Linked DNA regions of Homo sapiens. The protein of the gene in region 1 interacts with the protein of each later gene in a biochemical or structural test. Each region holds a gene or a part of one and is shown on either strand. Other genes may lie near its edges.

Evidence for each region.
Region 2: the proteins of PDS5A (region 1) and WAPL form a complex in vitro, tested with the Homo sapiens proteins (one study listed by BioGRID).

Annotation. Positions count from the first base shown.
Region 1 is NC_000004.12:39,897,404-39,905,514, reverse strand, and holds part of PDS5A (sister chromatid cohesion protein PDS5 homolog A), read left to right. Parts: intron 1-1,323; coding exon 1,324-1,475; intron 1,476-3,054; coding exon 3,055-3,168; intron 3,169-5,007; coding exon 5,008-5,089; intron 5,090-6,689; coding exon 6,690-6,738; intron 6,739-6,986; coding exon 6,987-7,126; coding exon of another isoform or gene 7,127-7,159; exon of another isoform or gene 7,160-7,501; intron 7,502-8,111. UniProt on the Homo sapiens protein: Probable regulator of sister chromatid cohesion in mitosis which may stabilize cohesin complex association with chromatin. May couple sister chromatid cohesion during mitosis to DNA replication.
Region 2 is NC_000010.11:86,469,772-86,477,416, reverse strand, and holds part of WAPL (wings apart-like protein homolog), read left to right. Parts: intron 1-3,443; coding exon 3,444-3,539; intron 3,540-4,652; coding exon 4,653-4,805; intron 4,806-5,072; coding exon 5,073-5,209; intron 5,210-6,313; coding exon 6,314-6,425; intron 6,426-7,645. UniProt on the Homo sapiens protein: Regulator of sister chromatid cohesion in mitosis which negatively regulates cohesin association with chromatin. Involved in both sister chromatid cohesion during interphase and sister-chromatid resolution during early stages of mitosis.

The DNA.
Region 1 (8,111 bases):
GCAATCTTGGCTCACCGCAACCTCCGCCTCTCAGGCTCAAGTGATTTCCCTGCCTCAGCCTCCCAAGTAGCTGGAATTAGTGGTGCGTGCCACCATGCCCGGCTAATTTTTGTGTTTTTAGTAGAGACCGGGTTTCACCATTTTGACCAGGCTGGTCTCGAACTCCTGACCTCAGGTGATCCACCTGCCTCGGCCTCCCAAAGTACTAGGGTTACAGGTGTGAGCCACCATGCCCGCCCTTGGTCAGATTTTTAACTGACTCACTGCACAGCTGATTGGAAGCTCTGTTTGAGTGGGCAGGTTTTGTCAGCTTGTGAGCATATTTTTAGATTCACTGGTTAGTCAGCCAGCTCAACTCCTAGATTCACTACAATTTTAGATTTACTAGGATTTTAGATTCACTGGGTAGTCAGTTCCCCAAGTCCTGAGCTCAAGCGATGCACCTGCCTTGGCCTCCCACAGTGCTGGGATTACAGGCATGAGCCACCATGCCTGGCCCAGAATTCTTGATAGTGAACTTTGTTCTTATCCGAAGTTAACATCTAAAGGGATGTAACTGGCAATTAAAACATTCCAGATAATAGGGGTTTTGTTTGCAAGGGGAATTATAATCACTTCTAAAACTTGGTGAATTTTCTTTCAATAGAATCAAATGAACTCTCCCATAAGGTTATTAATAGTTTTCAAGGGAAATAAAAAATCAGTAACCTGTAGTTCTAGGTACTCAGGATGCTAAGGCAGGAGGATCACTTTAGCCCAGAAATTTGAGACCAGCCTAGGCAACGTAACGAAACCCCATTTCTTTAAAAAGAAAAAAGTAGATCATTTAGCAATATTTGCATTGGAAAATTTCTAAATAGGAACAGATTCAAAATTGTTTGTAGGCTGGGCGCGGTGGCTCACGCCTGTAATCCCAGCACTTTGGGGGGCCGAGGCGGGCGGATCATGAGGTCAGGAGATCGAGACCATCCTGGCTAACAGGGTGAAACCCCGTCTCTACTAAAAATAAAAAATTAGCCGGGCGTGCGGGCGCCTGTAGTCCCAGCTACTTGGGAGGCTGAGGCAGGAGAATGGTGTGAACCTGGGAGGCGGAGCTTGCAGTGAGCCAAGATCCTGCCACTGCACTCCAGCCTAGGCGACAGAGTGAGACTCCGTCTCAAAAAAAAAATAAAATTGTTTGTAAAGCCTCTTTTGAAGAGAAATAGTGTGCCAGTTTATAAAGGCACACATAAGACTGTACAACCTAATGAAGCCAAGGCAGTCTTTGGAGATTAGTACAGAGTTTTGTTATCTTGCTCATCTAATAAATTTTATGCTTTTTAGTGGCGAGTAAGAAAAGAAGCTATGATGGGTCTGGCTCAGCTTTATAAGAAATACTGTCTTCATGGTGAAGCAGGAAAGGAAGCTGCAGAGAAAGTCAGCTGGATAAAGGACAAACTTCTGCATATTTATTATCAGAACAGCATTGACGACAAGTGAGTTTAATATGTTGGTAGAATGGTTGAGTGTAAAACTACTTTTTACTTAAAAAATGTCTATTTAATATTTTAGTAATTTCTTATTTTTATGTATTTACTTCATAAATAAAATTAAGTTTATTCAACTTGATTAATCATTTATTTCTAAGTTTAGAGATAGCTTTTTACATATTTTTATGTACTGTGTTTAAACAAGACTGTCCACGATTATAAGGTAGCCTTATAATATGAAATAGGCATGAACTTTGGAGTTAGAGACCAAATGTTCACTCTGCCCTTTATTAGATGTGTATTCTTACATAGGTTCATTAAGGTCTTGTGCGCTTCAGTTTTATATAAAAAGGAAAAATAATAGTGCCTTTCCCACAGGATTATCATGTAGATTAAATAAAATAATGAATATAAAGCATCCTAGCCCAATGTGTGGCAAGAGAGCACTATTGAGTTAACTGCTAGTTACTTTCCTTTTTACACCACTACCAATAGAGGAATTACTAAGTTGTTTTCATTTTCTGAATATTACTTATAATTCTATATTGGATCGTACAAATGATACTTGGTGTGTGCAGAATAGTTTCCATTGTTTTGTTTAATTAAACTAACTTCTCTGGCATCACTGGATATGTATTTCATTTGTTAATTAAGAGATCTTGTATATTCTTAATCCAGTGATATTAAATAATAGAAGCAAGAAGATACAAGCAATAGGTACTAGCAAGAAGGATATTCCAATATTGGTAAGGAATTTAGATCATGGAGAGAACAATAATCAGATGTACACAGGAAAAACTACATTTTCTGGAAGTAATATGAAGGGGGGTCCCCCTGTTTTTAACTATGTGACAACATGGAAAATGGGCTGAACTGTAATCAGAGGAAATTAATGAGTTTCTTGAGAATTAGCTCTACCGCGGATCATAGCTTTATATGTTGCGTTAATGAATTTGCTTTTGTTCTAGACTGCTGAAGAAGAATAGGCGGAACAGCCTAGCACCCTGTGTTTAGGAATAACATTTAAACCTTCTAGAACAAATGTTTCATACTGACAAATTATAAAGCCACAGACAGTAACCGTGTCTCTAAAGTTAAACTGTACTGAAAGCTTTCCAAGAAGGAAGTCATTATAAACTGATATCTTCCATTGTATGTGCACACATAGCTATTATCTTGATATGGTATCCTGGCATAAGATGGTTAAAACTTAAAATGTTGGCTGGGTGTGGTGCCTCATGCCCGTCGTAATCCCAGCACTTCAGGACGCTAAGGCAGGCGGATTGCCTGAGCTCAGGAGTTCCAGATCAGCCTTGGCAACATAGGGACACCTTGTCTCTACAAAAAATATAAAAATTAGCTGGGCATGGTGGCACGCGCCTGTAGTCCTAGCTACTGGAGAGGCTGAGGTGGGAGAATCGCTTGAACCTGCGAGACAGAGGTTGCATTGAGCCGAGTTTGCACCACTGTACTCCAGCCTGGGTGACAGAGCAAGACCCTGTCTCCAAAAAAAAAAAAAAAAATTGCTTCTTAAAAATGGAATAATTGTGTCACTTAGGTTTTTTTTGTTGTTGTTATTTCCTAGACTGTTGGTAGAGAAAATCTTTGCTCAGTATCTTGTCCCCCACAACCTGGAAACAGAAGAGAGAATGAAATGCTTATATTACTTATATGCTAGTTTGGATCCAAATGCTGTAAAGTAAGTTACTTTTCAAATAACTGCTGTATTTTCTAAGGATTTCGTAAAATTACTTCATCTTATCTAATTAGTTGTTATTGATTGGATTGTTGCTGCTTCTATAGTTGAATCAAGAACCTCAGGTAAATATTTATAGACAAAATGTTACGATTTATGTTCAGGTTATTCTTATATGTGTAGGCTTGTTTGGCAGCCAGGTCAGTAGTAGGATGGTTTCAGGTGTTCAAATAAATGACCACGTCAAAATACCTGTGGCTAGTGTCTAAAACTACTGGTGCTTTATCCTTCCAGACTAAATATTAAGCCTAATAACTGAATACTGATTCTTTGTTGGGTGAACATATTCAGATCTTCTCTGTGTAAGATGGCCATATGATTAATGGTCCAACTGGATTATTTTCAGACTGAAAGGGATCACTATTGATATTTTTACTTAAATAGCATAATCAAACTGTCCCAGGCCAACCAGGATGTGTGGTCATTTCACTTTAATAGATTTTTTTTTTAAAGTAAATGTTACAATATATACATATATTATGTTGTACACCATCGTATATGTAATTTTTGTCAAAAATACACAAAGTAAATGAGTGATGTCATTAAGAATTCTGATCTGAAGATGGAAGGATCTTTTCAGCCTAGAAGCTTGACCATCCTGGGCAATGTAGTGAGATTCTGTCTTAAAAAAGAGAGAGAATTTTGAGTTAGGAATTTGACTGTTTGCCATTGTGGCTTCTTCAAGTGTTCCTGCATTATTAGATTAAGACTGCATTTTTAGGCCGGACGTGGAGGCTAACCCCTGTAATCCCAGCATTTTGGGAGGCCAGGGCAGGCAGATAATTTGAGGTTAGGAGTTCGAGACCAGCCTGGCCAACATGGTGAAACCCCATCTCTACTAAAAATACAAAAATATTAGTTGGGCATGGTGGTGCACGCCTGTAATCCCAGCTACTAGGGAGGCTGAGGCCGGAGAATTGCTTGAACCCAGGAGGCAGATGTTGCAGTGAGCCGAGATTATCCCATTGTACTGCAGCCTGGGCAACAGAGTGAGACTTGTCTCAAAAAAAAAAAAAAAAAAAAGAAAGAAAAGAAAAAAAGACTGTCATTTTGGCAGAAATTCTATTACGATAGTGTTGTATCATGGTTACTAATCCCTTTCCTTGCTTAAGGTTTTGATGTTTGTTTACATTTCAAAATATCTGACAAAGAGTGTTTAGAGATTAGTAATTCTCAGAGGTCATCTGGGCACCTGGAAATATGGATGGGATTTCTGAGAGAAGAAAATCTGTGTTCCTGGAGAGAGAAAAGTTTAGAATAAACACAATAATGTAAATTTGGCATCTTGAATCTGCATCATTTTTGATACTTCATTTTTCAAAATAGTCTATAGTGCTTCATGTATATGCCTTAGCCTTTTTAATAAGGCCTTCATGATTTGATCTGTGTCTGTGGAATGCTCCAGCTTCCTTATGCTCCACACACATGCCTTGTGCTCCAAGCGTATACATGTTTTTCAGTTTGTTTTATGTCCCTTGCACTTTGAGATTTTCTTTCCTTGTACCAAAACTTTCTAGCTACCTGTATTTAGTACATCTTTCAATCCCTGTATTACTTATTAATCTTTCTAAACCTCTCAAATATTTTCTCTCATAAGAAGGCTTATATTTACCATTTGTACTAAATTGTTTTAAATCCTAATAAATATATTTCCCGGTATTTAAACTTTTAGGTAGATGTAGAAGAATGGTGTATATACAGCATGCAACAAGAAAGGTTGTAAAGCTGAATAATTTCCAGTATTGTTATGTAATGTGTGTTTTCATATTCATAACTTTACAGAGCTCTCAACGAAATGTGGAAGTGTCAGAACATGCTTCGGAGCCATGTACGCGAACTATTGGATTTGCACAAGCAGCCTACAGTAGGTTCATGATTTGTTTAAATTCATAGTTTATTATAGTCACTGTTCAGATTTTCTGTAGTTCTACGTAATGAAGCAGGGAAAAAGTATCTCAGTTGTTTTATTTTCCAAATGTCAGTTAAATATAATTTCTGTAGTTGTCCAAGCTAAATTTCCATTTAAAATAAATATAACAAACTCTTATTTTCTAGTGTGAGCAAAGAAATGGTGTTTTCTAGTTTATATAAAGTTTTCAGACACTAAGAGTTTATAGTTAATCAATTTTCAAATAATTAGAATTAAATTTTGAGATAAAATTACATTAAACATCATATTTCTTTTTCACTGCATGATTCATGGTCTCTCAGTGTAGAGTGAATATCAGATATCAATCCTATAAATATGCCAATGGCAAACTAAAAAAGAAATGCCATTAAATTTTTGCAAGGTTGGGGAAAAAAACTTTACATTTTTACGTGTGTTCACTAGAATAGGTGTTCTTAACCAGGGGACCATATAAACAGACCCCTCAAGGACACATGGATGCTGGAACAGGGGCGGGCAAACTTTTTTTTTTTTTTTTTTTTTTTTTTTTAATACACAGGATCTTACTCTGTTGCCCAGGCTGTCGCATAGTGGCATGATCACAGCTCACTGCAGCCTCGATGTCACTGGGCTGAGGTGATCCTCCCACCTCAGCCTTCTGAATAGCTGGGACTACGGGTGTGCTCCACCATACCCAGCTAGGTTTTGTATGTTTTTTGTAGAGGTGAGTTTTCACCATGTTTCCCAGGCTGGTCTCAAAATCTTGGGCTCATGCAGTCTGCCTGCCTAGGCCTCCCAAATTGCTAGGATTACAGGTGTGAGATACTGCACCTAGCCTAGCAAACTTTGAAAATAAATCAACAGATAGCAAAAACATATTTTGCAAGGCATAGAGTCTGTGGTCAGATATTCAACCCTGCCTTTGCAAAATTAGTCATACACGATAAATAAATGAATGGACATGACTATATTCCATCGAAACTACTAACAAAAACAGGTAGCTCATGGGGGCATAGTTTTCTAACTTTTGAACTAAATTATTCAAATTTAGTATAAATGAAAACTAATAAGTAATGTTTTATGGGATACAGGAAAGGGAAGTACGTTTTAGAAAGGAGGTTTTCCTGAAGGTATTTAAGTAACGGGCCACAAAGTAGCTAACAGAACTCTATTGCAGAAAAAAAAGTTTCTTCTCTATATTTTTAGTTAATTTTTTGTGGCATGTAGTTTCATAGTAATTCTGATATGATAAGTTTATATGTTGATTGCTTCATTGATCTTTTTTCAATCTTCTGGCAATGTAACTTTCCTGTGAAAGTTATATACTTGTGGGTTTTTAAGTACCTTCCTCCCAACATCTCCTTTCCTTCTATTTGTCTTAATAGTTGCTACTATGTAATTCTTTGTTGTTAGTTTAGCGTATATATGTGGTAAAACCATTTTCCATTGAGCAGACTGTGATGAACTTTATTTTTTAACGTCATGAAAAATGTACAGTAATGAGTATTGATTTTTGTTAGGGAAATTTGTTAACACATATGACTAGTTGTTCTTTTGTTTCTGTTTTAAATTTCAGTCAGAGGCTAACTGTTCTGCCATGTTTGGAAAACTGATGACCATAGCAAGTGAGTATGTTTATTTACTCACTAAACATGTAGTAAACGTAAATGCAGACAAAGTATTTACCCAGTGGGACTACTGATTTAATGTTAAGTAAAAGAAAATAATCTTTATCTTAATTTTGTTTCTAAGAACCAGCTAGGCTGATTTTCTTTTAGTGGCTCCGCAATATTTTGATGGCACCTGTTTTTAGCTTAGTAGAATAGTTTTTTTTTTTTCCTTCTCTAATATTGATTCTCTTTTAATTTTATAGAGAATTTGCCTGACCCCGGGAAAGCACAAGATTTTGTGAAGAAATTTAACCAGGTTCTCGGCGATGATGAGAAACTTCGGTCTCAGTTGGAGTTATTAATTAGCCCAACCTGTTCTTGCAAACAAGCAGATATTTGTGTGGTTAGTAAATCATACTTCACACTTTTTCTCTAGCTTTACTTACAGAAATATGTATTTTATTAAAGCCTGTTTTACATACAGTGATTTGTGTAAATGTAACAATATTGTGAGCTCTGAATTACTTTGGAGTATATCTATTGTCAAGTTAATTCTCTATTTACCATTCACTCTCAGCCACATTCCAGGAAAATAACTAAAGAACTAAGCCAGGGAGATTGGTCTTAGGAATTTTACAAGATAAAGTACTTTGAACTTAGTAGACATTCATTGAGTAATGATAAGTATTTTCTGAATGCTTGTGTACATGTGCATTTTCTTCTTTCATGTATTAGAATGGAAATAATCGTCAATAAATTAGTAGTAGTAACATTGCCATATATCTGGTTTCATTTACAGATAAAGTAAATTCCTATCTAGACTTTTGTCTTCATTCTTCTCTTGAACTCATTTAAAACCAATATTCTTAAAGCTATCAGGAGGGAAAACTTATGCATTCATTTATTCAGCTTTTTTTTTTTTTTTCCTGAGATAGTCTTGCTTTTGTCACCCAGGCTGGAGTTCAGTGGCACAATCATAGTTCACTACAGCGTTAAAGTCCTGTGCTCATGTGATCCTATACCCCAGCCTTCTGAATAGCTAGAACTATTGGCACACGCATCCACACCCAGCTAAGTTTTTAAATTTTTTGGAGGCCATGCACATTGGCTCACACCTGTAATCCCAGCACCTTGGGAGTCCAAGGCGTGTGGATCACCTGAGGTTGGGAGTTCGAGACCAGCCTAGCCAACTTGGTGAAACCCCATCTCTACTAAAAATACAGAAATTTGCCAGGTGTGGTGGTACATGCCTGTAATCTGAGCTACTCAAGAGGCTGAGACAGGAGAATTGCTTGAACTCGGGAGGTGGAGGTTGTAGTGAGCCGAGATCATGCCACTGCACACCAGCCTGAGTGACAGAATGAGACTGTCTCAAGAAAAGGAAAAAA
Region 2 (7,645 bases), on another chromosome or scaffold:
AAGGGTGATTTTTGATTTTCCATGGAAAGTTGATTGCTGTATGATACTTTTACATATATTGTACACACAATCACTTCCACTGAGTGAAATTAGCCTGTGACATACCACTGTTTTGTGCTTTACATACACAGTTCACTTAGGAGCATGTGGAATTACTGTACTGTTTTGGAATGATGTAAAGAGCTCAGTCAGTGTTCCCTTTTCTCTCTTTCCCTGTTTCTTCCTCTCCCTGCCATATGTGTATGTTAGCCATATACAGATATTACTTATTTTAATTTTTAATTAGATGTGTCTTCAATATCTCTCCTCCCATAATAAACCCTATATTAATCTTGTAAGACACTGAAATAAAAGTCAAGAAAAAGTTCTAATTGGACTACTTCCCTTTAGATTGCTTATTAGTATTAAAATGGTAAAACATCATCAAAAGCTTTAAAACTAATAGTATTACTAAATTGCCTTGTTCAACAGCATAACCAAAAGTTCCTTTAATATGACCTTTTAATATAAATTGTTCAATTATTCTGTATGCTGTTATGCTTCAAGGACTTTTGAGATGAATAGACACATCAGTTATTCCATTTGTTTATCATATTCTTTATTAGGTAGGTAGGCTATATATTTCTGTTTTCTTACGAATGTGTTAGACTTAAACCTAGCAGCACATCATCACATAACAATTAATAATAACATTTAATACTTACAAAGCACTTTTTTTTTTTTTTTTTTAAAGACAGTCTCGCTTTGTCGCCCAGGCTGGAGTGCAGTGGCGCAATCTCGGCTCACTGCAACCTCCACCTCCCGGGTTCAACTGATTCTCCCGCCTCAGCCTCCTGAGTAGCTGGTACTGCAGTTACTCACCACCATGCCTGGCTAATTTTTGTATTTTTAGTAGAGACGGGGTTTCATCCTGTTGGCCAGGCTGGTCTCAAACTCCTGACCTCAGTCGATCCGCCTGCCTTGGCCTCCCAAAGTGCTGGGATTACAGGCGTGAGCCACCACACCCGACAGCACATATTCTTTCAGGCACTCTTACAGTGTTTTAATTTTTTGAGACAGAGTCTCGCTCTGTCGCCCAGGCTGAAGTGCAATGGCACCATCTCAGATCACTGCAACCTCCGACTCCCGGGTTCTAGCAATTCTCCTCCCTCAGCCTCCCAAGTAGCTGGGACTGCAGGTGCCCACCACCGTGCCCCGCTAATTTTTTGTATTTTTAGTAGAGACGGGGTTTCACCGTGTTAACCAGGATGGTCTCAATCTCCTGACCTCGTGATCCGCCCGCCTCAGCCTCCCAAAGTGCTGGGATTACAGGCGTAAGCCACCGTGCCCGGCCTAGTCAGTGCTTTTTAAAAATAATTTCTCTTTTTGCTTCTTTAATTTCTTTAATTTTATTTTTTGTAGAGACAGGATCTTGCTTTCTTGCCCAGGCTGTTGTGAACTCCTGGCTTCAAGTGATCTGCTTCCTGCCTCGGCCTAGAGGCGTGCTGCAATTACTGGCATGAGCCACTGTGCCTAGCCCAATCAATGCTTTTTAAAAAGAAGTAAAATGCTTGAGCTTTGAGGCACTCATTCTTGCCAAAAGGCTGTTGTTACCAGAGCCTGGGCTCTGAGTATGCTTGAGGTACTAAAGGTAGTTCAAATTAGGGATCCATAACTAGCAGACACACAAGTTACATAGCTGGTCTTTGAAAAGAATGGAAGGAATAGAGAGGTTGGTTTTAAAATTTATGTTCAGTCCACTTTATGTGTTGTGTCTCAGGAAGCCAGATCAAGTCATTGCATGAGTGCATAAATTGTTTCAGATTGCTAATGCATCATCATGTTATGCAAACCTGGCATTTATGAATGATGGGTTTGTGTACACAATCCAAATGAGAATTTTTCCACTTTATTAGAGATAATATATTAAAAGCTAACGATTAGTTCACACTAATGCTTAATGCTAATTATGTTGCTTCAGTGCAGCTAGTAAGGGGATATAGTTAAGTTTTTTAATGTAGATTTTTTGACGGTCTTGAAGTATGATTTTCCACTTGTCTTCTTATTTTTGTTGTACTGAAAATAAGATGTGTTTCATAAGAGAAAATCTCTAATTTGTCCAAACCATGTATTTGAAGTTCAAAACATAATTTAACGTCACTTTTGTAGAGGATAGAGAGGATGAGGTGTTACCTTTCTATTTTGTCTTTGTAATTATGCAGTTTTCTCTTGAAAGTGAGGGTTTTGTTCTTTTACTTGATTTGATTTTGTAGGTTTACTGTCATTTATTCTCAATTCGGAAATTCAGTGTTAAAACTGAAAATCCCCTGGAAGTTTAAGTAAATTGATAGGGCAGCACAATAACCTCAATTGATGTGTGAGGGACTTTACATCTTTGTCCTGCTTAGTGTAACATTTTGCTGCAGAAATCATGTATGTTATTACATGGTACTTTTTTGGATCCCACTGTGTCTTGGAATATGTGGTATATGTATTATATTTACCTTGATAAAATTTGAGAACTCTTGAGTGGTGGCACACAGCTGGCTGCAGTGGTTTGCTTTAAATGAGCGCATTGTCTGTCATAAACTGCTGGATTCCCATTGTTGGAAGATTGTGAGGCATGAATTGGTAGTAGGAAGAATAAAGTTTTGCCAAAGAACCCATTGAACTATTATTATTATCATCATTACTATTTTTTAAATTTTTTTGAGACGGAGTCTTGCTTTGTCACCCAGGTTGGTCTTGAACTCTGGGGCTCACCCAGGTTGGTCTTGAACTCCTGGACTCAAGTGATCCTCCTTCCTCACTCTCCCAAAGTGCTGGGATTACAGGCATGAGCCATCATGCCCAGCCCATGTTGAGTTAAATGTGTTGATTACTTAGTAAGCCTAGCAAGAGGTTTACCTTTTTTTTTTTTTTTTGAGACGGAGTCTCACTCTGTCACCCAGGCTGGAGTGCAGTGGCACAGTCTTAGCTCACTGCAACCTCTGCCTCCGGATTCAGGTGATTCTCCTGCCTCAGCCTCCCAAATAGCTGGGATTACAGATGCCTGCCACCATGCCCAGCTAATTTTTTTTATTTTTAGTAGAGATGGGGTTTCACTATGTTGACCAGGCTCGTCTCAAACTCCTGACCTCAAGTGATCCACCCGCCTTGGCCTCCCAAAGTGCTGGGATTGCAGGTGTGAGCCACCATGTCTGGCCTAGGTTTACTTTCAAGTGCCATCTTTTCTTGGTTAGTCATAGTTGCACAGAGCACTAATTACTGATTTTGTGACCTAGTACTACAGTGATTATATTTGCCATAGACATGAGAATGGGAATTATGGTGGGACTGTTCCCAGATAGTATCCATCCTGCTGTTTCTAGGACATGTTTATGCATATAAATTATTCTTTATGATTTTTAGTTGAGAGTCTTTTATAAGGATGGAAGCAGTTGATCTTTCTCTCATTTCTCTAGTCACCCACAAAAGCTGTATATAATGCCAGACATTGGAATCATCCAGATTCAGAAGAACTGCCTGGGCCACCAGTAGTAAAACCTCAGAGTGTCACAGTAAGTGAACTGTACTTATTTATTTTGTGTTTTTTAATAAGCTATAAATTAAGCAGTTACTCTTTTAATTCATAATTTGTAAATCTTTGACTTTTCTATTTAACAGTTTATTTTGGCTTTCTTTACTGAAACTTATTAGTTTCAGTTTAATTCATTGGAAAACTGAGGATTGTCAGTAAGATAGCAGAAATTCTAGTGCTGCTAGGTTAAACAATGAAAGCCATAAAAAATAAGGCTCTTGTTACTCATGACCCACATTTCATGGAATTTATAGTATTTAGTGTTTAAGAGCAAGATTGTCCATATTTGATGTTTGTATAAGAGCTATGTTGTGTATTACATCCTATATATATTTCTAAGTGGCTTTCAGTGCTTAATTTGCTTTTCAGAGACAAATCTCTTCCTGTATTCTAGTAATACTTTTCAATCCAAAACATTAGGAAAAAGATTCTTAGCAACTTATTTTCTCCAGAATGACTGGTAATATCATACATGATTTCTAGGTTAACAGTAAAGCTTCAGTCATCTGGAGTTATCAAGTAACTTAGTTCTTTATAACAATAAGAAATTTGGGGATAGAAGTCTTTCTAAAGTATAATGTACAGTTCCCTGTCTTCTTAAACTGATTAGACTCCTTTTGATAGTATAAAGAAATCATTTTGTATATTAGTAGTAATATAGCATGCTCCTGTTATAGCTATTTATTTTTACCCTAAACTACTTCACACTCTTGTGCTACTAAAATTCTTTTGACTCTGTCTGGTTTTTCTGTCCTGTCCCTTTCTGCTTATGAAAGCTATTTTTGCATGCAGTTGTGGTTCTTTAGTCTTTCTAATGGTACTAGAGACAAACGACAAATTGTGTGAAATAAAAAGTTTAAAAAAGACCAGAAGAAATCCTTGAGTGGTTCTTCTGTGTGCAGATATACATATGTCTTACCTGTTAGTGCATGGAATTCAAAGTATTTCTAAAGACCTTTGAGAGGCCTCCCTGCTCCCTGCTTTTTAAAAAGCTTTATTTACTTTTTTTTGAAGCTGAATTTGCCAGATAGATGAGACGTTCCTATTTTTATATATTTATTTAGAACAACTAATTTAATACCTTTATTAATAGGTGAGGCTGTCTTCAAAGGAACCAAATCAAAAAGATGATGGAGTTTTTAAGGCTCCTGCACCACCATCCAAAGTGATAAAAACTGTGACAATACCTACTCAGCCCTACCAAGATATAGTTACTGCACTGAAATGCAGACGAGAAGACAAAGAAGTAAGCAGCCATATACAGTGTTTACTGCATGTTGATAGATTTTTGTATGTAACATTTAGCCATTTAATATCTTCAACAAATATCAGTATACTGATACTCAGTTTTGAACCACAAACTTCTTTTGTCCTACCATCATCCTTGTTCTAAAAATATTTTTGTTGCCATCTAATGAACTATTTTATGCACTTATGTAAAGTACAGTGAGCCCATAGATTTAAATATGCTAGTTCCTAGTTAAAAAGGGGTGAACTTTTTTTTTCTTGGCAGTTATATACTGTTGTTCAGCACGTGAAGCACTTCAACGATGTTGTAGAATTTGGTGAAAATCAAGAGTTCACTGATGACATTGAGTACTTGTTAAGTGGCTTAAAGAGCACTCAGCCTCTAAACACACGTTGCCTTAGGTAAGATCTTATTTTTATATTTTACAATTATGTGCATGCTGTATTAAATTTTTTCAACTAGGTGTTGTCCAAAAAGCCAAACATTTTTTATTTTGTTATGATGGGGTAGTATGTATAGCCAGTGATATGTTAAAATGCTATCCATTTCTTTATAAAGAATTTGATTCTGCATGATAAGAGGGAAAGCTGGGTGATGAGAGCCTTTTTAATATAGCATAGGCTTCAGTTTTCAAGAGCTTAAAAAAAAAAAAAAATTACGCTAAAGCATCTTTTTGCCTTGTGTGGTGGCTCATACCTATAATCCCAGCATTTTGGGAAGCCAAGTTGGGAGGATCATGTGTGTCCAAGAGTTCGAGACCACCTTGGGCAACATAGTGAGACCCCATGTCTACAAAAAATAAAAAATTAATGAGTCATGGTGGCATATGCCTGTAGTTCCAGCTACTTGGGAGGCTGAGGTGGCAGGATGGCTTGAGCCCGTGATCATGCTGCTGCACTCCAGCCTGGATGATAGAGTGAGGTGAGGCCCTGTCTCCAAAAACAAGAAAGAAAAAATTACCAGAAAGAAATAAAGTAAATAATTAAAAAAAAATCTTTTAAGTTCTTTTTACCTCTGATGTTCAAGTAATAAGTTAGATTTATTTAAGCATATTGTGATCTGGACGCTTACATTTGTACCCAAATGCTCAAAAAGATGATCTTTTGTATTTCCTAATGGATTGATTGAATACTATAATTTTGATTAAATTTTTCAGTCATTTGGAGTATATCCAATCAAATATAATTAATTAATTGTGATTTTTATCAGAAGTATTAATGAAAGGCAGCTCAGATTTTAAGCTTTTAATGGTGGTAGTAGTAACGTAAGGAATGCACTAAAGACAATTACGTTATTTTTTTAAAATACAGTGTACCTAATCATGCACTAGGCATCAGTATATTTTTAATAATGTGTTTTGCCTATGGTTTTTATATTGTGATCATGTATGGGCAATGCTTTGACCCTTTTACCCCCTTCCTATTTGCTGGTTTTGGTATTACACAAACTCAAAACTAATGTACTAGCTGTTTCCAGCCCCCCTAACCTGCTCTATTTTCTTGTAGTGTTATTAGCTTGGCTACTAAATGTGCCATGCCCAGTTTTCGAATGCACCTGAGAGCACATGGGATGGTAGCAATGGTCTTTAAAACCTTGGATGATTCCCAGCACCATCAGGTATTTTTTAAGTTTCTGAGATTGAGAAGCCTTATGTTGAAAACTACTAGTCTATTTGGCTATCAAAAATATCTTCACTGAATATTCTATAAATATATCCTAATTATAGATTGAGTTCATTTTATTTGCTAAATTTGTAGTGCTTATGGCCAGAAGCTTTTGCTTAATACTTATTTTATCATGAAAACGTGAAAACATTTTTTCTTAATGTGTCATTTTATACTTTTAAAATTGTATTTTGTTATCTTAGCTAATGTAGTATATTGATACAGAATTTTGTAAGCATAATTTTCTCTATAATCAGAAAGCACTGAGAAGAATCTTTTAATATTATTTGATACTAATGAATGGAAAAAAACTGGTTTGGAAATGCAGCCCTAATTTTTTAGAAACGTTTTTGTCCAGTGTTGAATCTGGAACATGGCCTCATTGTGATAAGGAATAATTTCTTCATTTTCCTTGCCTTTGATGCTTTTGCATAATGATAAACATAACAAAAGTTATTAGGTTTAACATTTTCCAAAATTAGAAGAAAGTAACCATCATTGCTAATTATTAGCATTAGTAGTATTTTGAGATGGCCTTACTATATTTTTGTTAAAGAAATTATGTTCTAAATACAGATTAGGTGATAATTAATTTAATACTGCATCTTCTGGGCTGGGCGCGGTGGCTCATGCCTGTAATCCCAGCACTTTGGGAGGCCAAAGTGGGCAGATCATCTCAGGTCAGGAGTTTGAGATCAGCCTGGCCAACATGGTAAAATCCTGACTCTACTAAAAATACAAAAAATTAGCTGGGTGTGGTGGCAGGCACCTGTAATCCCAGCTACTTGGGAGGCTGAGGCAGGAGAATTGCTTGAACCCGGGAGGTGGAGGTTGTAGTGATCTGAGGTTGTGCCACTGCACTCCAGCCTGGGAGACAGAGCGAGACTCTGTCTCAAAAAAAAAAAAAGAAGTTAGTTTGTTGCTGGGCAAGGTGGTGTGCATTCGTAAGTCCTAGCTACTCTGGAGACTAAGGGAGGATCTCTTGAGCTCAGGAGTTCAGATCCATTTTGGGAAACCTAGTGAGACCTCATCTCTTAAAAACAAACAAAAAAGAGAATTCGTTTGCTTTGTTATGCAGTTAACAGTGAACTTAGACATTACAGTGTGATTTTTAAGGGCAGTGGATCCCCCATGGCCTTTACAATGCATCCTAATTTCCAAAAATAATTTGCT